4 linked regions of the Homo sapiens genome follow. The protein of the gene in region 1 interacts with the protein of each later gene in a biochemical or structural test. Each region holds a gene or a part of one and is shown in the gene's direction. Other genes may lie near its edges.

What was found.
Region 2: the proteins of HSPG2 (region 1) and NID2 form a complex in vitro, tested with the Homo sapiens proteins (one study listed by BioGRID).
Region 3: the proteins of HSPG2 (region 1) and KDR form a complex in vitro, tested with the Homo sapiens proteins (2 studies listed by IntAct).
Region 4: the proteins of HSPG2 (region 1) and PDGFB form a complex in vitro, tested with the Homo sapiens proteins (one study listed by BioGRID).

What each region holds. Positions count from the first base shown.
Region 1 is NC_000001.11:21,822,288-21,829,310, reverse strand, and holds part of HSPG2 (basement membrane-specific heparan sulfate proteoglycan core protein isoform b precursor), read left to right. Parts: intron 1-231; coding exon 232-476; intron 477-884; coding exon 885-1,056; intron 1,057-1,158; coding exon 1,159-1,281; intron 1,282-1,391; coding exon 1,392-1,448; intron 1,449-4,085; exon of another isoform or gene 4,086-4,531; coding exon 4,532-4,607; exon of another isoform or gene 4,608-4,695; coding exon 4,696-4,774; exon of another isoform or gene 4,775-4,934; coding exon 4,935-5,005; exon of another isoform or gene 5,006-5,106; coding exon 5,107-5,190; exon of another isoform or gene 5,191-5,591; coding exon 5,592-5,695; exon of another isoform or gene 5,696-5,822; coding exon 5,823-5,995; 3' UTR 5,996-7,023. UniProt on the Homo sapiens protein: Integral component of basement membranes. Component of the glomerular basement membrane (GBM), responsible for the fixed negative electrostatic membrane charge, and which provides a barrier which is both size- and charge-selective.
Region 2 is NC_000014.9:52,066,045-52,072,977, reverse strand, and holds the start of NID2 (nidogen-2 precursor), read left to right. Parts: upstream 1-3,918; 5' UTR 3,919-3,983; coding exon 3,984-4,211; intron 4,212-4,814; coding exon 4,815-5,120; intron 5,121-6,933.
Region 3 is NC_000004.12:55,108,589-55,115,611, reverse strand, and holds part of KDR (vascular endothelial growth factor receptor 2 precursor), read left to right. Parts: intron 1-200; coding exon 201-331; intron 332-569; coding exon 570-738; intron 739-1,346; coding exon 1,347-1,486; intron 1,487-2,130; coding exon 2,131-2,308; intron 2,309-4,843; coding exon 4,844-4,958; intron 4,959-5,045; coding exon 5,046-5,209; intron 5,210-7,023. UniProt on the Homo sapiens protein: Tyrosine-protein kinase that acts as a cell-surface receptor for VEGFA, VEGFC and VEGFD. Plays an essential role in the regulation of angiogenesis, vascular development, vascular permeability, and embryonic hematopoiesis.
Region 4 is NC_000022.11:39,241,975-39,249,479, reverse strand, and holds the start of PDGFB (platelet-derived growth factor subunit B isoform 1 preproprotein), read left to right. Parts: upstream 1-4,497; 5' UTR 4,498-5,516; coding exon 5,517-5,579; exon of another isoform or gene 5,580-6,554; intron 6,555-7,505. UniProt on the Homo sapiens protein: Growth factor that plays an essential role in the regulation of embryonic development, cell proliferation, cell migration, survival and chemotaxis. Potent mitogen for cells of mesenchymal origin.

The sequences.
Region 1 (7,023 bases):
GGAGGCATGGGAGGATAAATGCAGGGATCAGGGCAAGTCCCCTCTTCCTGTGCATTTCGTCTCTGTGTCACTTGAGGCCAATCCCTAGCCCTCTCTGAGCCATGGGCTCCTCATCTGGAATACAGAAGGCTGTAGGGCATTCCCCATCTGCTCAGGGCCCTGTTTGTGGTGGAGAGGGCAGGGAGCCCCGTGTGCCCCCATGTGCCCAACCCTGCCTGGCATCCTCCCCAGGGCTGGCCGTTCTGCGGAGCGCCGAGCCGCTGGCCCTGGGCCGCTGGCACCGTGTGTCTGCAGAGCGTCTCAACAAGGACGGCAGCCTGCGGGTGAATGGTGGACGCCCTGTGCTGCGCTCCTCGCCCGGCAAGAGCCAGGGCCTCAACCTGCACACCCTGCTCTACCTGGGGGGTGTGGAGCCTTCCGTGCCACTGTCCCCGGCCACCAACATGAGCGCTCACTTCCGCGGCTGTGTGGGCGAGGTAAGAGCAGCCTCCTCGGGACAAGCGGGAGGGGAGGGGTGCCAAGCCTTGTGTCCCCCTCGGCTCTCCAAGCACCTTGGCATTGGGCCCCTCCACCTGCAGCCACCCACGGGCCCTGGGCCAGGACACTGTACCTCTGAGCCTCAGTTTCCTCCTCTGTAAAATGGGCATGATCACACCTACTTTGAAAGGTTGGGCAGAGGATTGTCTGCACTGACGGATGAATGTTTCTAGCACACAGTAGGCACTCAACTCCTGCGCCTCCCTCCCCACACCGAGAATCCATGCTACCACTCAGGGCCCAATGTGGGCTCCCAGCTCCCCTCTGCTGCATTCTTCTCCCTGCTGGTACACCTGGGTCTCTGCCTCCCAGGCCCCTTTAGTCCCTCGGTGTCCCTGTCCCCACAGGTGTCAGTGAATGGCAAACGGCTGGACCTCACCTACAGTTTCCTAGGCAGCCAGGGCATCGGGCAATGCTATGATAGCTCCCCATGTGAGCGCCAGCCTTGCCAACATGGTGCCACGTGCATGCCCGCTGGCGAGTATGAGTTCCAGTGCCTGTGTCGAGATGGATTCAAAGGTGGGAAAGCCTGCCCAGGGCACCGGAGGGGAGGGGCACAGGTGGTCAGCGACACCTCCAGCCCATGCCCACCCACCCACTCGCCTCTGCCCTGGCCCACAGGAGACCTGTGTGAGCACGAGGAGAACCCCTGCCAGCTCCGTGAACCCTGTCTGCATGGGGGCACCTGCCAGGGCACCCGCTGCCTCTGCCTCCCTGGCTTCTCTGGCCCACGCTGCCAACAAGGTACCCAGGCCTGGCTTCTCTCCACTTCATCTCTGTCTTGGGGCCCCGGAGCTCGACATAGTACCCACGGGTGTCTATGCCCACCAACTGGACCCTGCCCTTCTCCATAGGCTCTGGACATGGCATAGCAGAGTCCGACTGGCATCTTGAAGGCAGCGGGGGCAATGGTGAGTACTTGCCATGGCCTCCTCCCCAGCTTCAGCTCAGCTCACTCTTCCAGTTACCCCACACCCTCAATTCTGGCCTGCAAGCAAAACAGCTTTATATGAGGAGCTTGCTGGGCAGAGAGACAGAATGAAGACCACAGCCATGTGGAGCTAGGGCCTGCCCCACACTTACTGGCTGGGTGACCTTGGGCAGGCCTTTGAAACCACTCTGACCTCAGTTTCCTCCTCTGTATTCATGTATTCAGTCAACAAACTATTGTTGCCCATCCTTGCCCTGAGAGCAGTAAATATAAGATGCATAAAGCAAGACCCTCATTCCCAAGAATTCCACCGTCTACTGAAAAGCTAAGGAAACAGTGAAGAGTGAATGCTGATTGAATGTTTACGGACACTGTGCTAACCCCTTTACAGACACATCTCTTCTTATGTATCACTAATATAATAGGCGAGGCAGTGGTATAGTGGGTAAGAGTATAGACTTGGAGCCAGCCTGCTTGGGTTCAAATCCTAGCTCTCCCACTTACTAGCTGTGGAACTTTGGGTGAGTCGCTTAACCTCTCTGTGCCTCATATAAAATGGAGATGAGTAACATCTTTCCCTAAAGATTTGGATAAAATTTTATGTGAGAGTAAAATTACTTAGTGCATTTTTTTTTAAGGTGGAGTCTTGCTCTTTCACCCAGGCTGGAGTGCAGTGGCACAATCTCGGCTCACTGCAACCCCCGCCTCCCAGACTCAAGCGATTCTGCTGCCTCAGCTTCCTGAGTAGCTGGGATTACAGGTGCCTGCCACCACACCCCGCTAATTTTTGTATTTTTTGTAGGGATGGGGTTTCACCATGTTGGCCAGGCCTGTCTCTAACTCCTGACCTCAGGTGATCCGCCCCCCTTGGCTTCCTAAAGTGCTGGATTACAGGCGTAAGCCACCGTCCTAAAGTGCTGGATTACAGGCATAAGCCACCGCGCCCGGCCACTTAGTGCATTTTAAATGCCTAGAACAATGTGTGGTACAGAGTCAGTACAGAATGTTAGCTGTTGTTAATATTATGTTCAGCTGGCCGGGCACACTGGCTCACGCCTGTAATCCCAGCACTTTAGGAAGCTGAAGCGGGCAGATCACCTGAGGTTGGGAATTTGAGACCAGCCTGACCAACATGGAGAAACCCCATCTCTACTAAAAATACAAAATTAGCTGGGCGTGGTGGCACATGCCTATAATCCCAGCTACTCCGGAGGCTGAGGCAGGAGAATCGCTTGAACCTGGGAGGTGGAGGTTGCCATGAGCCAAGATTGCATGCACCATTGCACTCCAGCCTGGGCAACAAGAGCGAAACTCCCTCTCAAAAAAAAATACTATATTCAGCTGGGTATGGTGACTCACGCCTATAATCCCAGCACTTTGGGAGGCTGTGGCGGGCAGATTGCTTGAGCCCAGGAGTTCCAGACCAGCCTGGGCAACAAGGCGAAATCCTGTCTCTACAAAAAAATACAAAAAGTAGCTGGGCATGGTGGTGCTCATCTATGGTCCCAGCTACTCAGGAGACAGGCAGGAGGATTGCTTGAGCCCAGGAGTTCAAGATCAACCTGGGCAACACAGGGAGACCTCATCTCTACAAGAAATTTAAGAATTAGCTGGGTGTGGTGGCACATGGCTATGGTCCCAGCTGAGGCAGAAGGATCACTTGAGCCCAGGAGGTCGAGGCTGTAGTGAGCTACAATTGTGTCACTGCACTCTAGCCTGGGCAACAGACTGAGACCCTGTCTCAAAAAAATAAAAAATAAGGCTGGGTGCGGTGGCTCACACCTGTCATCCCAGCACTTTGGGAGGACAAGGTGGGTGGATCACCTGAGATCAGTTCGAGACCAGCCTGGCCAACATGGCGAAACCCCATCTCTACTAAAAATACAAAAATTAGCCAGGTGTGGTGGTGCACACCTGTAGTCCCAGCTACTCGGGAGGCCAAGGCAGGAGAATTGCTTGAACCTGGGAGGTGGGGGTTGTAGTGAACCAAGATTGTGCCACTGCACTCCAGCCTGGGCCACGGAGCGAGACTCCATCTCAAAAATAAATAAATAAAATAAAAATTATCTATATATAATATTCATTCATAGGGTTGTTGTAAGGATTGAGTTAAATGCAGTGGTGTCTGTAGCTGGATGGGACGCTCCCCGCACAGCCACATCATAGGTGTTAGGTAAATGTCAGCCGTTCTCCTCATCATTTGGTGGAGGGTAGCAGAGGGTCCCCTACTCTTGTCCCCTGCCAGAGCTACTGTGGCCAGTGCCGGCCTGTGGGATGGGTCATGAGCAGATAGGGCTGGGGGGGTGTGGAGCCACACACAGTATGGACATCCTGGGCCAGTCACTCGCCCAAGCCTGCCTGCTCTTCTGTAAGATGGAGAGAACACCAAGGCTCTGAACCATTTATTGCCACAGTCCAAGGTGACCAACGGTCCCAGTAGCTCCGGACTGAGGGGTTTCTTGGGATGTGGGACTTTCAGGGCTAAAGCCAGACAGAATTTGGCAAGTAGAATGGCGGGTCACCCGACACGGATCCTGTTGACTACACAAAATAAAATAAAATAAAATACATTGATTTAAGGAAAGCAATTATGCTGAAGTAAAGTAATCAAAACATGTTTTAAGTTTCCTGACTTGCTATATATGTGCTTCTTTATTAACACATCAAATAACAAGATCTGGTGATCTCAGTAGCTACCACAATTTCAAAGCAGCAATATGTGTAAATGATATTTTGAAATATTTGCAGCTACTGTCATGTGATAAGCAAATACTAGTAACAAAGTTGCAGGTCCTACCACTGCTACTTTGGTTTCTTGCCTACATCTCATTGAAAGAACTGCTCAATTTCAGTGAGAAGTGAGTGAAATTGAGGTGTAATGCTTTCCCATCCAAGGTCATAGGCTCCCTGAATTCTGTTGGCAGCCCCCGTGGGTCCCCAGGGACTGCAGGCTCGGAGCCCCCTAGTCCTGCATGTTGGCGTGGAGGTGGGGGTCAGGGGAACTGACGGGGGATTTTGATGCCTGATGCAGCAGGTATGGCACCACCCTCCTCTCTCCCACAGATGCCCCTGGGCAGTACGGAGCCTATTTCCACGATGATGGCTTCCTCGCCTTCCCTGGCCATGTCTTCTCCAGGAGGTGAGACTGGCATTGGAAGGGCCCATGGGCCTAATGGGGAGGATGGGAATCTGGGACTTCTGTCCCCTCACCCGCTCTTCCTCCGCAGCCTGCCCGAGGTGCCCGAGACCATCGAGCTGGAGGTTCGGACCAGCACAGCCAGTGGCCTCCTGCTCTGGCAGGGTGTGGTGAGTGTGGGTATCCGGCTGGGCTCTTGGGGCTCCTGGGGCAGGAAGCTGGCTTCCTGGTGGCCGGAGTGGTGGGGGGAGGGGAAAGCAGAGCCCCCTGGCCTCGGCAGCCTCTGCTCTCCAGGCTGGGGACCCCAGAGACCCTGTGCTTCCCTGGCAGGAGGTGGGAGAGGCCGGCCAAGGCAAGGACTTCATCAGCCTCGGGCTTCAAGACGGGCACCTTGTCTTCAGGTAGGTCCTGGCACCTGGCCCTTCCTCTCCCTTCCCTGGTCCCAGCACCCCACCCCCCGGTCCTGCCCCAGCTCATACTTCTTGGGCCTGGATGACTGCAGGTACCAGCTGGGTAGTGGGGAGGCCCGCCTGGTCTCTGAGGACCCCATCAATGACGGCGAGTGGCACCGGGTGACAGCACTGCGGTAAGGGACCCTGCCGGGCACTCGGGATGGGGCCCAGCGTTCTGGAGTGGGGCAGGACGCCCCCTACCATGGGCAGAGAGGCAGGTATTGAGCTCTGTGGAGACAGAACTTGAAGCCAGGGGAGGGGAGAACCCACCAGCCAGGGCTCGGGCTTCCATCTCGGACTGAACTCCGCTGGGGGCAGGCGAGTGCCCCAGGAGTGGGAGGAAACCTGGGTGCAGAAATGAGGAAGCTGTGTTTGTGGGGCCCGATCTCTCGTTCAGCGGGGGAAAGAAAGAGCTTGGGAAACAGGGACAGACTTCTGAGTCTGGAGTCTCGATATCAGAGGGAGGGGACTCTGTCGTGGGGCCGGGGAGGACCAGGAAGTTTGTGGAAAGGGGCCTGACCCAGTTCCACTGCAGGGAGGGCCGCAGAGGTTCCATCCAAGTCGACGGTGAGGAGCTGGTCAGCGGCCGGTCCCCAGGTCCCAACGTGGCAGTCAACGCCAAGGGCAGCGTCTACATCGGTAAGTCTGGGGCTCCTTCTCAGGGCAGGGGCAGGAACGGCACTCCCTTAGGGCTAGAGCTCGCCCAGCCTTCCTCGCCTCCTGGGCTGCTGGAGCCCACAGGCCCTGTCCTCTCACCTCCCGGCAGGCGGAGCCCCTGACGTGGCCACGCTGACCGGGGGCAGATTCTCCTCAGGCATCACAGGCTGTGTCAAGAACCTGGTGCTGCACTCGGCCCGACCCGGCGCCCCGCCCCCACAGCCCCTGGACCTGCAGCACCGCGCCCAGGCCGGGGCCAACACACGCCCCTGCCCCTCGTAGGCACCTGCCTGCCCCACACGGACTCCCGGGCCACGCCCCAGCCCGACAATGTCGAGTATATTATTATTAATATTATTATGAATTTTTGTAAGAAACCGAGGCGATGCCACGCTTTGCTGCTACCGCCCTGGGCTGGACTGGAGGTGGGCATGCCACCCTCACACACACAGCTGGGCAAAGCCACAAGGCTGGCCAGCAAGGCAGGTTGGATGGGAGTGGGCACCTCAGAAAGTCACCAGGACTTGGGGTCAGGAACAGTGGCTGGGTGGGCCCAGAACTGCCCCCACTGTCCCCCTACCCACCGATGGAGCCCCCAGATAGAGCTGGGTGGCCTGTTTCTGCAGCCCTTGGGCAGTTCTCACTCCTAGGAGAGCCAACCTCGGCTTGTGGGCTGGTGCCCCACAGCTACCTGAGACGGGCATCGCAGGAGTCTCTGCCACCCACTCAGGATTGGGAATTGTCTTTAGTGCCGGCTGTGGAGCAAAAGGCAGCTCACCCCTGGGCAGGCGGTCCCCATCCCCACCAGCTCGTTTTTCAGCACCCCCACCCACCTCCACCCAGCCCCTGGCACCTCCTCTGGCAGACTCCCCCTCCTACCACGTCCTCCTGGCCTGCATTCCCACCCCCTCCTGCCAGCACACAGCCTGGGGTCCCTCCCTCAGGGGCTGTAAGGGAAGGCCCACCCCAACTCTTACCAGGAGCTGCTACAGGCAGAGCCCAGCACTGATAGGGCCCCGCCCACCGGGCCCCGCCCACCCCAGGCCACATCCCCACCCATCTGGAAGTGAAGGCCCAGGGACTCCTCCAACAGACAACGGACGGACGGATGCCGCTGGTGCTCAGGAAGAGCTAGTGCCTTAGGTGGGGGAAGGCAGGACTCACGACTGAGAGAGAGAGGAGGGGGATATGACCACCCTGCCCCATCTGCAGGAGCCTGAAGATCCAGCTCAAGTGCCATCCTGCCAGTGGCCCCCAGACTGTGGGGTTGGGACGCCTGGCCTCTGTGTCCTAGAAGGGACCCTCCTGTG
Region 2 (6,933 bases), on another chromosome or scaffold:
AAAAATAATATCAGAATAAAAGCTCAAAGGCATGTTCTCTTAAGCACAGCTGTCCAAAGCCTCCTATTTCAGGGAGAATTCAGCCACTTTATGCAGACAGGAAAACAAAACTGTTCGTTTTAGCATCTTCTCTATTGGAACTATTTTTTTGTACTCAGATTGCATCAGATTCAAAACTAGTGACATCCTCTTATGCTCTGTTTCCCCAACCAGATCATGAGCTCTTTAAGGTCAGGGGCCACATTTTGTACTCCTTTATTTCTTGCAGAGTTGTGTTTGTCATGGTGTACTTTCAGGAAATTGTTGTTGAATGGATGAATGAATGAAAGAATGACAAAAATGGGAGAGCAGTGGTAGGTGAGTTGCTAGGCAGCCTGGTAAAGAGGATTACAAGAGTCAGGTCAGATTAGCAGGAAAGGTGGTGTAGGGGAAAGAATGTTGCATTCTGAGCCAGCAGACATGGGTCCTAGTCCCAGGCTGGCTTGCTTGTCTTCACTCATTCAACAAACATTTCTTACACTTCAAGTGAGCCAGGCAGGCATTGCGGCAGACACTGAAGAAGGCAAAATCCCTGCCCTCCAGGTGTGGTGGTGGTGGTGGTGGTGGTGGTGGTAAGGGAAGCATGTGGAGATCAGGATTATGGGAGAGATGTGTGATAGGAGGTATGATCACGGCAAGCACAGGGCACATGGAAGCAAGGAGAAAGGGCTTCTAAATCAGACTGTGGATTCCAGGAAAGCTTCGTCCACCTGAAAGGAAAAGACAGAGGCACAAAATATAACAAAACATTTACTTGAGCCAAAGTGAGGACAGTTGCCCGGAAGACTTAGACCCAAGTAACCCTGGATATGAGCTTCATGCCGCCTTTATTACAAGCAGGTTTTTTACAGGCAGAAAAGGGGGACAGGGAGTAGGCCGATATGAAATTGTTTGTAAGGAATTCACATTGGTTTACAGAAACAACATTGCTCACTGATTGGCTATGCACTGTTAAGCTATAGGCTATGAGTGATAGTGTCCAGTGTGACATTATTAGGTTAATGTATAGTTACTTGTGGCAATAGCAAGCAGTTTCAAGGATGAATACATAGCTCAAAAGGGGGCAGTAGTGTTACTGGAAAGAGTTCCTGATCCAGACCCTAAGAGAGGGCTCCTGGATCTGGTGCAAGAAAGAATTTGGAGTGAGTCTACAAAGTAAAGTGAAAGTGACTTTATTAGATAAGTAAAGAAACAAAAGAATAGGCAGAGCAGTGGCGTCGGCTGCTTGACTGATTATACTTATGGTTATTTATTGATTATAAGCTAAATGGGGTGGATTATTAATGAGATTTTTGCAAAAGATGTGGGGAATTCTTTTCTCTTCCCAGATTCCTGAAGGAGGAGGGTTTTGATTCAAGCCTTAAAGATGAGAAGGTGTTGGCTTGAAATTGACCAAGAAATTGACCTTTTACTGTAGGTAAAAGGACTTACCTGTGAGGATGTTGTATTGGAGAATTAAAGTCTCAGCTTCAGGTGAGACTTCAGGGTGGCTGTGACGGGAGATAAAGTTAGAGACATAAACTAGAGCTACTTTCCAAAGGGCCTTGCTGCAATATAATTTAGTGGTTAGGAGTGGAGGTTTAGAGATCAGACAGAATTGGGTTCAAATCTCAGCTTTGGTACTTACCAGCCATGTGATAATAACTGATTTTTTTAAAATCCCATCTGAGCTTTAGTTTCCTTAACACAACGACTACCTGTTATCAGTTGTCTATTGCTGCATAACAAATTATCCCAAAATGTAATAGCTTAAAGCAACACACAGCTTCTTCAGCTTCTGAAGCTGAAGCTGTAATTCTCAGTTTTGGTTGGTCTGGAATCCCACCAAAACTATAATTATAATCTAACCAAAACTATAATTCTCAGTTTTGGTGGGTCTGGAATCTGCACCTGGCTTAGCTGGGTCCTCTGCTTCAGGGTCTCTTGCAAGGCTGCAATCAAATGTCAGCCAGCGCTGAGATACCATCTCAAGACCCAACTGGGGAAGGATCCGTTTCCAAGCTCACTGACATGGTTGTTGGCAGAATTCAGTTCCTTGCTGACTGTTGGCCAGAGGCTGCCCTCCTCAGTTCCTTGCTATGTGGGCCTCCCCGACATAACAGCTTGCTTCATCAAAATCAATGAGAGGGAAAGTCAACTAACAAGGAAGAAGCCACAATCTTATTTAGCCTTCTTCTCATCACTCTTGCCACACTATGTTTGTTAGAAATCACAAGGCCAGTCCACACTCCCAGGGCAGAGATTATACAGGGGAATGAACACCAGGAAATGGGGATCATTGGAGACCATCTCAGTGTTTGCTTGCCCCAAAGCTCATAGCTTAGTACCACTAAATAAATGTTAGTTATTATTATTATGCTGAATCGAGAGATAAAGTAAAACTACAGAGGGCCAGTAGTTTTATATCAGGGAGTAACTTCAGATGATGTTGGGCAAGTCAAGTCATCTGTCTTTGAACTTTCATTTCATCCTCAGTAAAATAAAAATACCTGACCCCAGAAAGAATGAGAAAATATATGTGCAAGCATAAATATATTTTTGGAACATCAAATATACAACTCTCCACTCTGAGGAAGCAAACTGCTTTGGGCCAGTTTTCCATTTTGTGTCTGCTCTATGAGTCTCACAGTCTGATGTCTTCACGTTTTTTAGCGTTTGGTCCAGTGGGCCCATAGGAATAAACACCTACAAAGAGCAGTGTGTCTCTGGAGAGTCCTTTAAGGCATTTCCAAGGATTTGCTTTTTGGTTTTTTTCTTTCTTTCGTTCTTTTTAAATATCTTTGCTTTTAAGGACCTCATGGGGGGCCTGGGAGAGAAAACAGACTGTCTGGGAAATTTTAAGCTCTTGATAATAAAAATGGTAATAAAATCTCCTCCAGCTCCTGAGGCTTCGCAGAGGGGATGTTTATGGTGGATGGGGTTCCCCTTCTCCTGCGCAGCTGGTTTCGAGGTTGTGCGGTTTCCAGTCCTGCGGAGCAGCTCAGGTTACCGCCTCCGTGGCCGCGGGGGAGGGCATCTCCGACGGCCGCAGCAATGGGCAAGAGATCAGGGTCTTCCCATCCCCGCGACTCGCCCCTTTCTGCCTGGTAACCAAGCGGGATGCCTCATCCTACTCCCCAAACGGAGCGGATCACACACAGTAGTATTTCATGGTCTTTCCTGCTGCGGTTTTCCCGGGGGAAGGTACTTCCAGAGGGTGGCCAAGTCTTCCCTAGCGGCCGGCCTTCGGGAGGGGGACAGAACTTAGGAGTCAGCCCTCTGCCTTCGTACAAAGGCTCGCTTCTCCTCAGGGCGTCTCTGGGTGGAGCGAAGCGGCCGAGGGGACCACGACAATGTCCCTTTGCTTTTCGGACCGATGGCCAGGCCTCCAGAGCCAGGAGCGCCCGGGACCCCAGGGCAGGGAGCAAAGCTCATACCGCAACCCCGCCACCCGCCCGCGCCCTGCCAGCCTGTTGGGGCCACAGCGCGCAGGCCAGCAGCCGCACTCGCCGCTGCGGGGTTCCCTTTGCGCTGAGCTCATCTCCTGCAACGCCGCTGCCCCAAACCTTGCGGGCCATTTGGTCCCGGGGGTGGGGCTCCTTGGGGGCCGCGGGGCAGCCCGGATGAGAGGATGACCCGGGAGCTCCCTGGGGGCGGAGTGGAAGGGGCAGCTCCAGGCAGCCCTGGCCAGGAGCTTTTACCCCGCCAGCCCCGCTGCTCCAGCGGCCGCTGCCTTAGAAAAGTTAACGAGAACCAGATGTGGTGGCCACTGCCGAACTTTCTCAGAGCCGGTGATTGGTCCCCAGCCGAGGGCCTCAGCCAATTAGCTTGCTGGGTGGGCCTGGAGTCCCGCCCCGCCCAGGCGCCCGCGGAGATCCAGGTTCGAGGCTGGCGCGGCGCGGAGAGTGGGCTGGAGGCCGGGGCGGGACGCGTTGTGCAGCGGGTAAGCGCACGGCCGAGCGAGCATGGAGGGGGACCGGGTGGCCGGGCGGCCGGTGCTGTCGTCGTTACCAGTGCTACTGCTGCTGCCGTTGCTAATGTTGCGGGCCGCGGCGCTGCACCCAGACGAGCTCTTCCCACACGGGGAGTCGTGGGGGGACCAGCTCCTGCAGGAAGGCGACGACGAAAGCTCAGCCGTGGTGAAGCTGGCGAATCCCCTGCACTTCTACGAAGCCCGATTCAGCAACCTCTACGTAAGTTCAGCCCCCTCCTGGCACTTTTCCCGCAGCTTCTTCCCTGGGGTCGGTCTCACGGAAACCCTGCCTCCAGAGGGGAGGAAACAGACCCCACTCCTGGAGCCCCCCAGCACCCTTGCGGTGGTACCCGGCCAGAGAGCGATGCCGCTGCCTGCCCCGCTGCTGTAGGGGAGCAAGAATGACCTGGAGGGGAGAGCAAGAATTGTTCGCAGCCACGTACGCGTCCCAGGCAGAAAAGGTGGCGTTGCTAGGGCGGCCAGCGGGCTTTGCAGTTAGGACCGCGAGAAGGCTGTGCCCGTCTGCGGAGCTGGGGTGTTCCCTCTTCAGACCTGGAGGCTTCCTCTCCGAGGACATGGGGCTCCGGGGTTGTGAGGGGAGTGAGAAGATAGGTGAACGAGTTTTAGGGCCCCTGGACCTACTGCAGCGCGGAGCTGGGACAGTCGCAAAAGTTGCGCTTGTTTCCCTGAATCCAGACTCCCTGGCCAGTGGGGAAGGAGAGAGAGGCTTTTTGCCTAAGTCAGTTCCCTTCCCTCCCTGCGCGAAAGGGTAGCGTCCTTGGGCTTGAGCGACTGTCACCTTTTTGTCCCTCTCCTCTCCCAGGTGGGCACCAACGGCATCATCTCCACTCAGGACTTCCCCAGGGAAACGCAGTATGTGGACTATGATTTCCCCACCGACTTCCCGGCCATCGCCCCTTTTCTGGCGGACATCGACACGAGCCACGGCAGAGGCCGAGTCCTGTACCGAGAGGACACCTCCCCCGCAGTGCTGGGCCTGGCCGCCCGCTATGTGCGCGCTGGCTTCCCGCGCTCTGCGCGCTTTACCCCCACCCACGCCTTCCTGGCCACCTGGGAGCAGGTAGGCGCTTACGAGGAGGTCAAGCGCGGGGCGCTGCCCTCGGGAGAGGTAAGTGACCAGGGATATTTGACTGCTGAGGAAATTGAAGGATGGGCTTAAATTCTGGGGCAGCGACCCAGGGACTGGCTCGGAGTTGTTTCTGAGCCTACTCTTGCGCTGAACCTGACCTTGGAGGCAGCAGGGCTGGAGTGGCTTGGGAGTGAGGAAAGACGTTGTCTCTAGGCATCTTCTGAGGCCCTGGCAGGTGGTCACTCCCTTGAGGAAAAAAATGCTTAGCGGATATGAGAGCGGGAGTGCAGATGTGGGAGCCCCTTTGAACATAAGGCAATTTACTGTTTGGTTGCTTATTTTTAGAACCATCTCTAAGTATACAAGTATTTCTAATTATATGTTCATTGAAGGGGAAAAAATCAGAAAATACAGATAATTTTAAAAAAGAAAACAACCACTCATTTTCCCACCACTGATAAACATTTTTCTGCGTACATTTTCAGAGTTTTTTCTTCTGCATATCTTTATTGCTGTCTATTAACAATGATGAGTTTACACTGCACATACTGTTTTATAACTTGCTTTTTTCACAGAATAGTGTATTGTAAATATGTTTCAATGTCAATAAATGTATTTCTACATCATTTATAATGATGCATACTACTGTATCCTGCTATTATCCTGTATAATAGTGGGTGTACCACAGTATGCTCAACCAGTGTTGGGCCATTAAGGCTTTTTCTGGTTTTTCATTATTATAAATAATAGCGTGAATCACTTTTTAAAAAGCTAAATCTTTGCACATGTTCTTAGTTGACATTCCAGGAAGTGCAATTGGTAGGTCAGAGAGGATGCACTTTTGATAAAGTTCTTGATAACTTCTGCCTAATTGCCTTCCAGGTACCAGTTTACAAGTTTCTTAGTTTATAGGAGTCTGCCGTCAATGTGCTTTACAGTCTCTACCTGCGGAAAGTAAAAAATTCCAGGCTCCTGGTCTTTAGTCTTGTCATCAACATTTGAAGTCCTCCAAATGGATATGAGTGGGGCCAGCGTGCTTGGTAAATGGCAAACTGCCTCATTCCTGAAGAAAGTAAGGGCTTCCTTCTATGGAATTAGACCTGAATCTAAAATACCATACTCTAGGGGCTGAAACCATATGATTCATCTCAATTTTAACTTACGGAAATGCTTCTTCACTATAGAAGGATGGTACATGCCCCCTGTAAGAGGTGAGGTTGCTTGCCCATGTCACTGATCTCTATCTTGTAAGGATGCTGTGACTTATATCTTTTGTATGGGGACTCTTTATTTTTTAATTTTTGAGGGTACATAGTAGGTGTATATATTTATGGGGTACATGGGATGTTTTGGTACAGGCATGCAATACGTAATAATCACATCTTGGAGAATGGGGTATCCATCCCCCCAAGCATTTATCCTTTGTATTACACACAATCTAATTACACTCTTAGTTATTTAAAAATGTACAATTAAGTTATTATTGACTATAATAACCTGTTATCACAGGTTATAGTCACCCTGTTGTGCTATCAAATGGTAGGTCTTATTCATTCCTTCTATTTTTTTTTTTTTGGTACCCGTTAACTGTGTCCACCTTCCCCTGACCCCTACTACCCTTCCCAGCCTCTGGTAACCATCCTGTTACTCTCTATGTTGCATAAGGACTCTTTAAATGCAAGGTTTTTGGAATTAAAACTTTTGTCTGGTCCTTTTCTGGGGTGGGGGAGGTTTAGGGTAGAAGAGATTTGTAAATTCCATCTCTCTTTTACTTTTCTAATTAAAATCCACCTGCAGACATTACCATTTGCTAGTTGGCTTCAGAATGTTTCATTAAGAAAACTAGAAATAC
Region 3 (7,023 bases), on another chromosome or scaffold:
ACAAACACACACACACACATACACACACACCCTCATGTAGCACAGATATCTATCAGCAGAATAATCTGTGGATGCCTTTGGTTGTGTGAGGTGTCCCTTCCAGTCATTCACTTGTCTGGTTAGAGTTTAGGAACCTGAAAAATGACCAACTTTTCTAGTAAATACTATTAACTCATTAATAAAACTAAATTTTCTTCTAGATTACAGATCTCCATTTATTGCTTCTGTTAGTGACCAACATGGAGTCGTGTACATTACTGAGAACAAAAACAAAACTGTGGTGATTCCATGTCTCGGGTCCATTTCAAATCTCAACGTGTCACTTTGTGCAGTAAGTTGCATCTCCTCCAATCGTCTCTTAAGTTTTTATAATTTTAAGCTAATATTAAGATGGGTAACCTGTTTATAATATTCACAATGAGTTTTAAGGATCCTTTAGGAAGGGTCAAATGCAATGAATAAAACTAATTAGTATTCTTAAAAATAAGATGAATTCTTCAGTGATCATTGTACATGGCTCTCATTTTTGGTACTGGATTAAATATTTGATATGTCTTTTTATTACCCAGAGATACCCAGAAAAGAGATTTGTTCCTGATGGTAACAGAATTTCCTGGGACAGCAAGAAGGGCTTTACTATTCCCAGCTACATGATCAGCTATGCTGGCATGGTCTTCTGTGAAGCAAAAATTAATGATGAAAGTTACCAGTCTATTATGTACATAGTTGTCGTTGTAGGTAAGAGGACATTTCCTTTCCATATCATTAATAACATATCCTTGTATTAAGATCTTGGAGATAACAACATAGAGTGAAGAAGGATATTGAAAAGTATAGGAACTCAGGATATGGTGTTGGGCAATTCATCTGCTCTTCTCTACCAAATAAACCCATGTGCAATTGAGGTTGTCTCTTTTCTTGCCAAGATTAAGGAAGAAAAAGAAAACTTTTTAAAAAAAGGATGAAAGCGAATGGTATTACTCGAGCACATTTTATGAAGAATTCAATGTTCAGAGCATTGCTTGCTATCAATTATTTCAATTATGACTATTTTATGGAAACTTCAGCAATTTGCTAAAGCTGGCCCTACTGGCCTAGGGCTACTGACCACTGAAAGTTTACTACTTTTCTGTCCACTGGGTTACAACATCTTTGAGATCTGTGAAGGTAGTGCTTTGTAAACCTCTGTTGGCCATTTTCCTGGGAGCTACCAAGTATTGGTGAGGCCTGCAGGGAAAAACAATGTGGCATGTTTTAAAGTTGCATTACTTTAAAAAATAAATCTGTGCAAAGTTATAGGCTTATTTGCTCTCTCATGTTCTGTTTTTTCAATTTACTTGCTCTAGGGTATAGGATTTATGATGTGGTTCTGAGTCCGTCTCATGGAATTGAACTATCTGTTGGAGAAAAGCTTGTCTTAAATTGTACAGCAAGAACTGAACTAAATGTGGGGATTGACTTCAACTGGGAATACCCTTCTTCGAAGGTAACGCTAATGATTCAAAGCCAGACCTCCAAATACTTAGATAATAAGCCCCAGTGAAGTTTGCTTGAGAGATAGGGGCCTCTTTGGCCAGATAAAATGTAAGAGCCTTAAACACACACACATACACACCCACTCACACACACATACACACACACACAATTTAAGGGAATTGCAGAACAGATAGCACCCACCAAAAGGTGAAATACCAGGAATTTTGTCCTATTCTGCAATAGCCAGGCTATGAATATTAGTTTTCTCTAGGTGATTACATCTTTCCACATTATGTCATTTCTCTGTTCTCCAAAGTTTTTGATCTACATTCCTTTTAAGGGAATTTCTCTTTAAGAGGTGGCATGAGATACACTGCTCCTTAAACAGTGGTCACATTTACTTGTGTTTCTGCAGTTTATATCCATCTCACTTTCACCACGTGAGGTTTTAAAAATCCTAATTCAGTTGGTTCCATTTATTTCTCCTGAAACAAAATATATTTGTTGTCTGCATGAGGTTAAAAGTTCTGGTGTCCCTGTTTTTAGCATTAAATAATGTTTACCAAAGCCCAGATTTAATTCTGTGTGTTACTAGAAGTTATTGGGTAATGTTATATGCTGTGCTTTGGAAGTTCAGTCAACTCTTTTTTTCAGCATCAGCATAAGAAACTTGTAAACCGAGACCTAAAAACCCAGTCTGGGAGTGAGATGAAGAAATTTTTGAGCACCTTAACTATAGATGGTGTAACCCGGAGTGACCAAGGATTGTACACCTGTGCAGCATCCAGTGGGCTGATGACCAAGAAGAACAGCACATTTGTCAGGGTCCATGGTAAGCTATGGTCTTGGAAATTATTCTGTGCCTTGACAAGTGAGATAATTTAAATAAATTTAGGTCACTTAGTGATTCCTATTTTGTTCATTCAGAAGATAGTTTCTAGTTTTTCTTGTTAGGGAGGCCACATGACCTAGAGGTCAAGAGCATAGCTTTGTAGTCAGGAACTTGGGTTCAAACCTCAACTTTAAAGATGAGATGTGCTGATATACAGTAAGAGTTCATTTAGTATTACTTATTATAGTTATTGCTGCTATTAGGATTGTTACTATGATAAATAGTATTAGCTAAGGTAGTTTTTAAATTTTCATTTTATTGCAAGGCTGAGAGGCCTACTTGAATAAGCATGAGCTTTGCAAACTGGGGAAACATTTAGCAATATACAGTTGACCTGTGAGCAACTCAGGGATTGGGGGAACTCAGGGGAGTTCCCCTAACTTTCCCTCCTCTGCAGTCAAAAATCCATGTATAGGCCGGGCGCGGTGGCTCACGCCTGTAATCCCAACACTTTGGGAGTCTGAGGTGGGTGGATCACCTGAGATCAGGAGTTCGAAACCAGCCTGGTCAACATGGTGGAACCCCATCTCTACTAAAAATCCAAAAAATTAGCCTGGTGTGGTGGTGGGAGCTTGTAATCCCAGCTACTCAGGAGGCTGAGGCAGGAGAATTGCTTGAACCCAGGAGGTGGAGGTTGCAGTGAGCCAAGATCGTGCCATTGTACCCCAGCCTGGGCAACAAGAGTGAAACTCCTTCTCAAAAAAAAAAAAAAAAAAAAAATCAAGGTATAACTTTTGACTTCCACAAAACATAACTAATGGCCTACTGTTGACTGGAAGCCCTACTGATAACATAAACAGTCAATTAACACATATTTTATATGTTATATGTATTATATACTGTATTCTTCCAATAAAGCTAGAGAAAAGAAAATGTTATTAAGAAAATTGTAAGGAAGAGAAAATATATTTACTATTCATTAAGTGTAAGTGGATCATCATAAAGGTCTTCATCCTTGTCTTCACGTTGAGTAGGCTGAGGAAAAGGGGGAAGAGGAGGGGGTGGTTTTGCTGTCTCAGGGGTGGCAGAGGTGGAAGAAAATCTGCTTATAAGTGGACTCATGTAGTTCAAGTTTGTGTTATTTAAGGGTCAACTGTAATTGAACTGGAATTAAATTGAACTGGCCTTGAGAAAATCACCTTAATTTTTTGTTTATTCTCTTTCATTTACATAAATGTCTGAGTTTACATGGTAATTTGTGTGGCATCCTACTTATAAGCCTTGGAAAGGATTTTGGAGTTTATATTATGAGAATGCATCAATACAGTGAAATTTTAAAAATACCTTAGATAATGCTATTTATTAGAGTTGTAATCATAAAAGTGGCAACAACTATAACAAGTATGATTTAGTGAGCACTTACTTTATTAGCTCATCTCATCTTTGAAGCTGAGATTGGAACTCAAGTTCCTGACTACAAAGCTATGCTCTTGACCTCTAGGTCACGTGGCATCCCTAGCAAGAACTTGAAAATTTCTTCTGAATGAACAAAATAGAAATCACTAAGTGTCCTAAATTTATTTAAATTATTTCACTTGCCAAGATGCACTTGTCAAAATACACAGAGAGAGATGTGCTCTGGCTTATGTTTTTATAGAATTACTTTTGTTTTCCAGAATACTTCAGGGAAATAGGGGCAGAAATAAGGAGGTCAGTTGGGAGGCTAATTGCAGTTATCCAAGTGAGAGTTGAGGGGTGGCTTAGACAAGGGTAGTTGAGGTGGAGGTAGTGAGAGGTGATCTGCTTCTGGATATATTTTGAAGGTAGAGTCAACAGGGTCCGCTGATCAATTCATTGGTTGTGGAGTATAAGAGAAAAAGAGTGGAAGATGACTCGAGCGTTAGCATGAGCAACTGAGTAAATGATGGTGTTATTTACTGAGATGGCAAAGATCGAGAAGGCAGTGAGATTTAGGGAAACAGTGTTAGATATGTTTATCTGGAGATGCCTGTTAAACATCCAAGTGGAGATATTTAACATATCAACCCGGAACCCAGAGGAGTCAGGGCAGAAGATAACACATTTAGGAGGTACGTGAATGATACTTTAAACCTGAGGCTAGAGGAAGGTGTAAATAAAGAGGAGGTCTGAGGACTGAGTCCTGGGGCCTCATGGTGGAAGAGGTGTGTGGAGGCTGTCATGGGAGCAGAGGAGAAGGAGCACCCAAGCATCCCTGGGGGACTTAGAGAAAGCTGCACAGAGGAGCAAGTGTTTGAGTTGAGACTTGAGCAATCACTAGGCTTGTGGGAGTGCACTAGCGGGGAGAGAAAAGCAAATGCAAACACAGGAGGTGTGGGAGAAACACGGGAGGTGTGGGAGAAGCTGAAAAGTGACCCACTGAAAGATAGTACAGGAAATCTTGGAACTGCAGCTACTCAGACCCTCAAGGTCTTTGACGTTTCACTTGAAATGAAAAACTAAATCAAATGACCATTTACAGTAAGTTGACCTTTTTTTTTTTTTATTTTCTTCCAGAAAAACCTTTTGTTGCTTTTGGAAGTGGCATGGAATCTCTGGTGGAAGCCACGGTGGGGGAGCGTGTCAGAATCCCTGCGAAGTACCTTGGTTACCCACCCCCAGAAATAAAATGGTAACTACTGGAAATAAATGCAAAGCATCATTTCGTGTGAGAGCAAATCCTTTGACTATACTAATTCCTGAGAATTTTTTTTCATAGGTATAAAAATGGAATACCCCTTGAGTCCAATCACACAATTAAAGCGGGGCATGTACTGACGATTATGGAAGTGAGTGAAAGAGACACAGGAAATTACACTGTCATCCTTACCAATCCCATTTCAAAGGAGAAGCAGAGCCATGTGGTCTCTCTGGTTGTGTATGGTGAGTCCATTCAATTTTCCTCTCTGCCCAAGATTTATTATGATACATTGTCTTCCAAATCAGCCAAACCACCGTTCCTCTGCCTCCTGCTGCTTCACTCATATCATGGCTGGGCCTGCGTACAAAAGTCATCTGGCGTGGTGAAGCTGAAGTGAAACGTAGGACCATGTGCTCTGGCCATGTTTGTTTAAGAGGCCGTGTAAATGAGCTTTGTGGTGGACAAATGCAAGATTAAAGTAGTGATACCCTCGATAGCTAAATGTTGTGAAATAAGAATGCCCACAGGGACAGTTGTCAAGCTAAGTTATACTACCATGTTCCCCTCTCATGGAATTGCCCACCTGGTACACAGATGTGTAAGACCCTTCTCCTTAGATTTTGTGCAAAGCTTCTAGTTTGATGTTGTAGTTGATGTATCAGAGATGTGCAGGCACGTTCCAACTCTGAAGGCTTTTGAAGTTGACACTGTTGGCTTGGTTGGGAGCTTTTCTTTTTTCCTTTTTGACAGGAGTTCAGGATCTGATTTTGAGTCTGTAAAGGAAAGATAGTAAGTTTTTGATGTAAAGATAATTTGAACTTTGTTTTCTGAAACTGAAAGGTACAAATAAGTGTTTGGAATGGAGTGGGGAGAAGGGTGCCATGGTCAAGTGAGTGTGAGAGGTGCTAAGGTGATGTGTAGATGTGTAACAGGTTTCTTTATTGCAGGACTTCGCAGAACCTTTTATATGCTAATGTATATTGGTATTCTCCAGGAGGAGAGACATAGAGTATTCAAGGTTTAACAAACCTATTTGACCAGAGCACCTTTTTTCCCCTGAGCAAATTCATTAATCTCTCACTCCAAACAGTTTGAGAAATGCTTCTCTGTTGTAATTCTTTGTTCCCCCTTCTGGTACGGCATATTAAAACTTCAGGATATTTTCCCATGACATTAAGGTGCTTCCCTACGTGTCCTGATACTCTTCTGTAGGCCGCTGAACTTGGCTTTATTATTTTTTTTCAGGGAATATTTTAAAGATAGGCTGGGTGCCGTGGTTTGCATCTGTAATCCCAGCACTTTGGGAGGCCGAGGCGGATGGATCACCTGAGGTCAGGAGTTCGAGACCAGCCTGGCCAACATGATGAAAACCCGTCTCTACTAAAAATATAAAAATTAGCCAGGCATGGTGGTGGGCACCTGTAATCCCAGCTACTTGGGAGGCTGAGGCAGGAGAATCACTTGAACCCAGGAGGTGGAGGTTGCAGATAGCCGAGATCGCACCATTGTACTCCAGCCTGGTGACAAGAGCAAAACTCCGTCTCAAAAAAAAAGTTAACAGGTTCCAAAAAGGTTGTTTAGAAGCAGCATAGGTGTAGGGGACTGGGGAGAGGAGAAACTGGAAAGTGTATAAGTAGGATGGGAGGAGGAAATGAACAGGAAATAAAAACAAAACACGGACAGCAAATAGCCCATTTCATCAGTTCATGAAGCCACTAAATATTTTATTCACTTTAGCAAATTCTCTGCTATATGAAATAAACATAAAAAAGAAGTCAAGTCTTCAAAGCATAATCTGAGGCTTTAGGTTGACAGTAATAAGGAAATAGTTTTGACTTTGGAGTCAAAAAAGAAAGAAAGGAAAAAGGGAGAGAAGAAAGAAGGAAGTGAGAGAAGGGAGAAGGAAGAAAGGGGAAGAGGGAAAGGGAGTGGAGAGGGAGGGAGGGAGGAAGAGGGAGAGAGAATGAAAAACTCAGATGATGGTGGCAGGAATGCATTCTCTAAAGATTTACACCTTCCTTTAACATGAGGTGGTTTACGTGTTTGGGTTCAGAAG
Region 4 (7,505 bases), on another chromosome or scaffold:
CGATGGCAATGCCTTCTCCCTGGGCGACTGTGAGGGTGAGGCAGGCAGAGGGGAAGGAAGTGCTTTGTGGACAGCCAAAGGCCCTGTAGACAGGGAGGCAGGGGATGGGGCAGCAAGGGGCATGGGGGAGCTGATGAGGGCCACGCGGAGTGGGGTAGGGCTTGGAGTTTCAGACCATTTGTGGCATGGTCTTGGACGGTCTCCAGCTTAGAGCCTCACTTCCTCTCCATCAAGTATGGAGAAGCAGAGCTGCCTGGCCCAGGTGTTGCTGGCCCCTCTCAGTGGCGGGGAGGCTCCCAGTGATCATCGCTCTCACCTTTCTGGACTTGAGGGCGTGAGTTTGCCCCCGGGATGGAACCCAACTCCTTCCTTGGTATTTCTTCACCCCAGCCAGTGTCCTGGACCCCCACGCCCAGGGTGTAAGATGCTCTTCATGGATGAGGGCTTGGATAGCTCTGAGCACACAGTCTAAAAAGCCCCCAACCTTGGGCAGCACCCCCATCCCCCACGGCTGTGGCCACTCTTTTTCCCTTTGGCTCAGATCTGTCCTGGAGTGGAGGGTGGAGAGTTACGGGGGTGTGGGCGCCCCCATCCCTAGCTCTGCTGGAGAACCTTATTTCCCAGTGGCCTGAACGCGAAGATGGGCGGGGGCCTTCCCAGTTCTCTCATTCAAGTGCTCCTCAGACCCAGCCCTGATGAAGTTCCGAGGTCAGATGAGACCACGTGCATTCAGGGTGGTGTGGCTTCAGACCCTTCCCAGTTCTGATACCTCCAGAAGGGGTGCCCTTCAGGGGCCCTGTGCTTCCAAGCTTAGAGGCTCATGCTACAAGCCCCTCCCCAACTCTTTCCACCCTTTAGGAAGGGCCTGGCATCTCTGCAATAACTGGTCAGGACTCAGAAAGAGAAATTGGCAGGATTTTAATCATTTATTCATTCCTTCAGCGAGCGGCACTTCCTGAGCAGCCACTGTATGCTAGGAGCTGGCAGGAGGCCCTTGAACACTCTGGACTCAGTCTAGTGCTAGATTGATGATCAGGCCATGACGATGCCAGGTGTGCATGCTGTGGAGCCTGGAACAAGTGCCAAGCCTGGTGGGCCTTCTGGAGGAGGTGCCTGCTACACCCAGCCTGGCAGGAGGCAGACGATCAGGTGTTATTAAAAAAAAATTTTTAGGCTGGGTGTGGTGGTTCATGCCTGTAATCCCAGCACTTCGGGAGGCTGAGTGGGGCAGATCACTTGAGGTCAGGAGATCGAGAGCACCCTGGTCAACATGGTGAAACCGTCTCTACTAAAAATACAAAAATTAGCTGGGCATGGTGGCAGGCGCCTGTGGTCTCAGCTACTCGGGAGGCTGAGGCAGGAGAATCGCTTGAACCTGGGAGGCAGAGGTTGCAGTGAGAAGAGATCGCACCACGGCACTCCAGCCTCGGCGACAGACCGAGACCCCGTCTCTGAGATGGCTCACTGCAGTCTTGAACTCCTGGGCTCAGGGGATTCTCCCTCCTGACTCAGCCTCCTGAGTAGCTGGGGCCACACTCAGATATATATATATATATATATATATATATATATATATATATATATATATATTTTTTTTTTTTTTTTTTTTTTTTTTTGGTAATTTTTTTTAAGAGATGGGATCTCGCTATGTTGCTGAGGCTGGTCTCGAACTCCTGGCTGCACATGATCCTCTGGCCTCAGCCTCCCAAATTGCTGGGAATACAGGGGTGAGCCACCGTGCCTGGGGAGGTGTTCTTTACAGACTGTTCCTCTGCACAGAGAAGGTACAAGAAAGGAGCCCTTAGCACAACATTCAGGCCCAGGTGTCACGCAGGTGTCACGTAGCATTCAGGCCCAGGTGTCTGCTGGGCCCTCTTCTGCCACTTCTAACCCATGTACTGGCACCTGCACTGCAATGATTTGGGTCTATCTCACTGAGAGCATGGGAAGTCCCTGAGTGCCGAGGCTGGGACTCCTTCCTCATTCCATTTCTCAGCGCTTCACACAGGGTCTGCAAACAGTAGGCGTTCTACGATGCTGCTCTGAGTAGCCTTCCCTCTCCCTCAACTTGTACCTAAGTCAGAGTTCATATGGGTCCATCACTTTTTAGCTGGCAGAGCAGGTTCCCACATATTAATGCATGTGGCGCTCACCAAAGCGCTGTGTCAAAAGTGTCATCATTGTCATCAGCATCACCTGCCAGAAAATTGCACAGCACGGTGGTCTCAGCATGTGGGCTCTGTAGCTGGACTGCTCAGATTCAAGTCCTGGCCTTACCACTTACGGGCTGTGTGACCTTGAACAAGTGTATTGGCCTCTCTGTGCTTCCATTTCCCCATCTGTAAGATAGGAATAACACATCTCACAGGAGCATGGAGAGGCTACAGGTAGAGTAAGAAAAACACTAGCTACCACATAGTCAGCTCACTAATCATGGTAGTTGTTACCATTCTATTTATAGAAGACACAGAAGGTCAAGGTCAAATGACCCAGCTGTCCGGTGGAAGAGGGTTTTTATCTCTGAGTCGTTAGACTTCAAATCTAGTGTTTGGGGGTTATCTCCTCGTCCCGCTGCCCCATCTCCCTTGTCACCCTGTCTCCTAATTTATCTGTTTATACATCTGGTTGTCCTTCTCAATGGGGCTCTTCAAAGGCAGGGGCCTGCATTAGGCTGGTTCACACCTGTCTCCCCAGTGCCTGGAGCAGTGCGGGGCCACCAGTGAACTTGAAGGCTGCATGGAAGGTTCCAGGCGCTTGCTTCCTGCTAAGGTGTTTTGCTGAGCGCCTCCACATGGAGGACCTCATGGGAGCCTCCAGACCACTCCAGGAGCAGGGTAAAAATTCTCTACAACTGCACTGAGGTACAACAAACTGCACACATTTTGTTGTGATGTACGTATACACCCATAAGCCCATCACCACAATCAAAAATGACAAACATTTCCATCACCACTAAAATTTTGCCATGCCTCTCTGTTCTCTCTCACTCCTTCCCATTATAGATTTATTTTTATTTCTTTAGAGATAGGGTCTTGCTCTGTTGCCCAGGCTGGAGTGCAGTGGCACAGTCACAACTCACTGCAGCCTCAAACTCCTGGGCTCAAAACGATCCACAGTCTCCTGAGTAGCTGGGACTACAGGAGCTTGTTACCACACCCAGCTCCAGTTTATAAATTCATCTCCAGTTTATAAAGGAGGAAACCGAGGTACTGAGAGGTTAAAAAACCTTCCTGCAGACACTTGTCCAGCAAGTGGCCACTCCAGGATTTGGACCAAGGTGATGTGTCTTCAGGCTGTGTCTCTGCCACTGTGCCACGCTGCTGGGTGGTAGGCAGCAGTGGGTGGGTGCCTGCAGTGGTCTGTAAAGACCACCTGAGATGTCCTTCCTCCTCTGTTCCACCCTGTCCAGGTCCAAGAAGACAGTCTATGAAGAGAGAGCAGGTGTGACTCTCTCAGTGTGCTCCTCTGTGAGAAGCAGGCTGACATCCCAAAGGGAAGGGCGGATAACAGAGACAGTGCAAGCGGAGGAGATGAGGGTGCCTCAAAGCCGGGAGGCTGGGTGATGCAGGAGCCTGCGTGTCCCGAGGGGGGTGCTGGGCCCAGTGTGAGTACGTGTGACTGTGACTGAGACAGTGTGACTGCTGAAGGCAGGGACACAGCAGCTCCCTGACTGGGGGCAGAAGGCGTTAACTGTGTGAAGGCTGGTTGTGGGTGGGTGGGCTCTGGGCCTCGAACCCGGGGGCTGAGGGAGATAGTAAACAGCAGGGTGACTGACGGGAAGATCATGTTGGTAGCCCTGCGAAGATGCTGCAGGGCTGTGGGGGTTTGTGTGACTTTGCAGTTCAACAAATTCAAATTCAGCCAACGCTGGCAGGGCCTGTTGTGCCAGGCAACCAGCTAGGAGGAGGAGACTCGGACCCAGCTTGCAGCTGAAGGGCGCTGGCTGCCGGGTTCTGTGGGTTCACCTTGCGGTGTCTTCCCTTGCTAACACTGAGTCCTTACAATAGCCCCATCTCCAGGTTGAGGCTAGATGGAGGGGACAGAGGGAAGTGACTTGCCCAAGGTGACCCAAGCTCCCGAGTGCCAGGGCAGGATCTGAATTCAGGCTCTCAGACTGCAGAGCCTGAGTCCCTCCCTGCCATGCCTGTGCCAGGGTGGAAATGTCTGGTCCTGGAGGGGAGCGTGGACTCCTGGCCTTGGCTCTGGAGACATCCCCCTAGACCACGTGGGCTCCTAACCTGTCCATGGTCACTGTGCTGAGGGGCGGGACGGTGGGTCACCCCTAGTTCTTTTTTCCCCAGGGCCAGATTCATGGACTGAAGGGTTGCTCGGCTCTCAGAGACCCCCTAAGCGCCCCGCCCTGGCCCCAAGCCCTCCCCCAGCTCCCGCGTCCCCCCCCTCCTGGCGCTGACTCCGGGCCAGAAGAGGAAAGGCTGTCTCCACCCACCTCTCGCACTCTCCCTTCTCCTTTATAAAGGCCGGAACAGCTGAAAGGGTGGCAACTTCTCCTCCTGCAGCCGGGAGCGGCCTGCCTGCCTCCCTGCGCACCCGCAGCCTCCCCCGCTGCCTCCCTAGGGCTCCCCTCCGGCCGCCAGCGCCCATTTTTCATTCCCTAGATAGAGATACTTTGCGCGCACACACATACATACGCGCGCAAAAAGGAAAAAAAAAAAAAAAAGCCCACCCTCCAGCCTCGCTGCAAAGAGAAAACCGGAGCAGCCGCAGCTCGCAGCTCGCAGCTCGCAGCCCGCAGCCCGCAGAGGACGCCCAGAGCGGCGAGCGGGCGGGCAGACGGACCGACGGACTCGCGCCGCGTCCACCTGTCGGCCGGGCCCAGCCGAGCGCGCAGCGGGCACGCCGCGCGCGCGGAGCAGCCGTGCCCGCCGCCCGGGCCCCGCGCCAGGGCGCACACGCTCCCGCCCCCCTACCCGGCCCGGGCGGGAGTTTGCACCTCTCCCTGCCCGGGTGCTCGAGCTGCCGTTGCAAAGCCAACTTTGGAAAAAGTTTTTTGGGGGAGACTTGGGCCTTGAGGTGCCCAGCTCCGCGCTTTCCGATTTTGGGGGCCTTTCCAGAAAATGTTGCAAAAAAGCTAAGCCGGCGGGCAGAGGAAAACGCCTGTAGCCGGCGAGTGAAGACGAACCATCGACTGCCGTGTTCCTTTTCCTCTTGGAGGTTGGAGTCCCCTGGGCGCCCCCACACGGCTAGACGCCTCGGCTGGTTCGCGACGCAGCCCCCCGGCCGTGGATGCTCACTCGGGCTCGGGATCCGCCCAGGTAGCGGCCTCGGACCCAGGTCCTGCGCCCAGGTCCTCCCCTGCCCCCCAGCGACGGAGCCGGGGCCGGGGGCGGCGGCGCCCGGGGGCCATGCGGGTGAGCCGCGGCTGCAGAGGCCTGAGCGCCTGATCGCCGCGGACCCGAGCCGAGCCCACCCCCCTCCCCAGCCCCCCACCCTGGCCGCGGGGGCGGCGCGCTCGATCTACGCGTCCGGGGCCCCGCGGGGCCGGGCCCGGAGTCGGCATGAATCGCTGCTGGGCGCTCTTCCTGTCTCTCTGCTGCTACCTGCGTCTGGTCAGCGCCGAGGTGAGTTGCCACGGCGGCTGGGGCTGGTTCTTCATTCATTACCTTCGCCCCCCCCTTCTGACCGCCCCCTCCTCTCCCTGCAGTGAACTTTGGACCCTTGCAGCCCGCGAGCCTGACGCCGGGCGCTGGGTGACCTCTTCGGGCTGGGAGCGAGGTCCGGGGGTGACAGGCTCTAAGGGAAGGCAACAGCGGTGGCTTTCTTTCCAACCGGCGGGCGAATCTGGCTCCCTAAGCCGTTCCGTGTCGGGGGAGGGTGTGTGTGGCCCTGTCCCCCACCCTTTGGGAACCCGAGAACAAGCCCCTTCCCGGCCGGGGGAGAGGGGGTGGGGTGGTGCCCAGGGTGCAGAAGGCAGCGCGTCCTCCCGAGCCCACTTCGGCGCCAGCCTCGGCTTAGGCTCTGTCCTGCCATCGGCTTGCCCAGGAGGTGCAAGCTTGCGCACCGGTGCCATCCACGCCGACCTTTGACGGGGCTCGGGTCCCACCCTGGCTCCCGGTCGGGGTCCGGGTGGACGCCCTCCGGCACGCGCAGGGCATGCCCGGCCCCAGAGCACGGTCTGGAAGCAGCTTGTGTCTCGGGCGCGGGGTTTGGGGTGGGAGTAACAGGGAGAGAGAGAGAGAGAGAGAGAAAGAGAGAGAGAGAGAGAGAGACGGAGAGAGAGACGGAGAGAGAGAGGGAGAGAAAGATAGAGACGCAGGTAGGTTTCGGGCACTCGGGTAGGGGGAGGACTAGGGGCTCTGAAGGAATCCAGCCCCCGGGGCGCTGTGTGCCTGAGGCCTTGCCGTACCTGTGCCCGCGCCCTGCAGGAGGAAGCACCTCTCTCCCCCGCATGCAGGGTGCGGAGCGCGCCGCCTGCAAAAGCCTAGCTGCACGGGAGATGGGGTATAAAAACATCTGAGGGAGCGCTGGGGTCGGAGCCGTCCCCACCCCTCCCAGCCTCACGTAGCCGTGAGTTGGCAAGTCTACCCGGAATCCAGGTGGGAAAGGGGGCGGGGCAGGACGACGCGCGCGGTGGAGGGGAGGAGAGGGCAGCCGGGAGCGCGGCGTGACTGGGTACCGTCCCACCTCCGCCCGGCTGCGGCCGGGAGTCCGCACCTCGCCCGCACCTCGCCGGCTCCCGGGGAGGGTCGGCCCCTGCGGCCTCCAGCCAGGCGCAGGAAGGAGGCAGCGGCGGCGAAGGGGTTAAGGCGGAGGGCTCGGAGGCCGCGGCCCGGCCTTGGGCTGCCGCCAGCGCAGGTTGTTTTGACCACGGAGGAGCCGTCGCCGTCTCCTTTTGTTCTCGGGGCTCCTCGAGGGCCGCAGGCCGCCCGCCCGGGGGCCCCGCCCTTCCGCGGCCGCCCCCCGCGGCCCGCACCCGGGAGGGAGGACGCGGGGCTCGGCCGGGCCGCCTTCAGGCCCCTCCCGACGCCCCCTCTCCGCCTCTCCCGCAGCCCCCCGGGCCGCGGCCAGCTGTTGGGGAGGGGGTGGCCGGCCGGCCCCAGCTGCCGCCTCGCCTCGCCGTGGGACCTGGGGGCTGGGCCCGGTGCCAGGGCGTCCTGGGAACGGCGGCGCCCCGTGGCTGCTCTCCGCAGCCCACCCCGCCCGGGCCCCCGACTCGCTCACTCACCCCACGCATGCACACTCCTGGCCGGAGGCGATGCTGCGCTCCGGCGGGCGGGCGCGCAGAGCGACGGGCACGCACTACCGCGGCCAGGTCGCGCGCCCGCCTCTGCCACGCCCGTGCACACGCGGGACACACGCGCGCGCACCGCACACAAACGCACGCACGGCCCCTGCACGCGCGGCCTGAGCACACGTGCGCGCACACCCACGCACGTACACAGGCACGCACGGGCCCCCGTGCACCCAGCGCCTGGTGCTCGCCCCCGCGCAACAGGTGGGCCCTCCGTGGGCCCTGGCACCTCACCACCTCTGTAGCGGCCCCATTT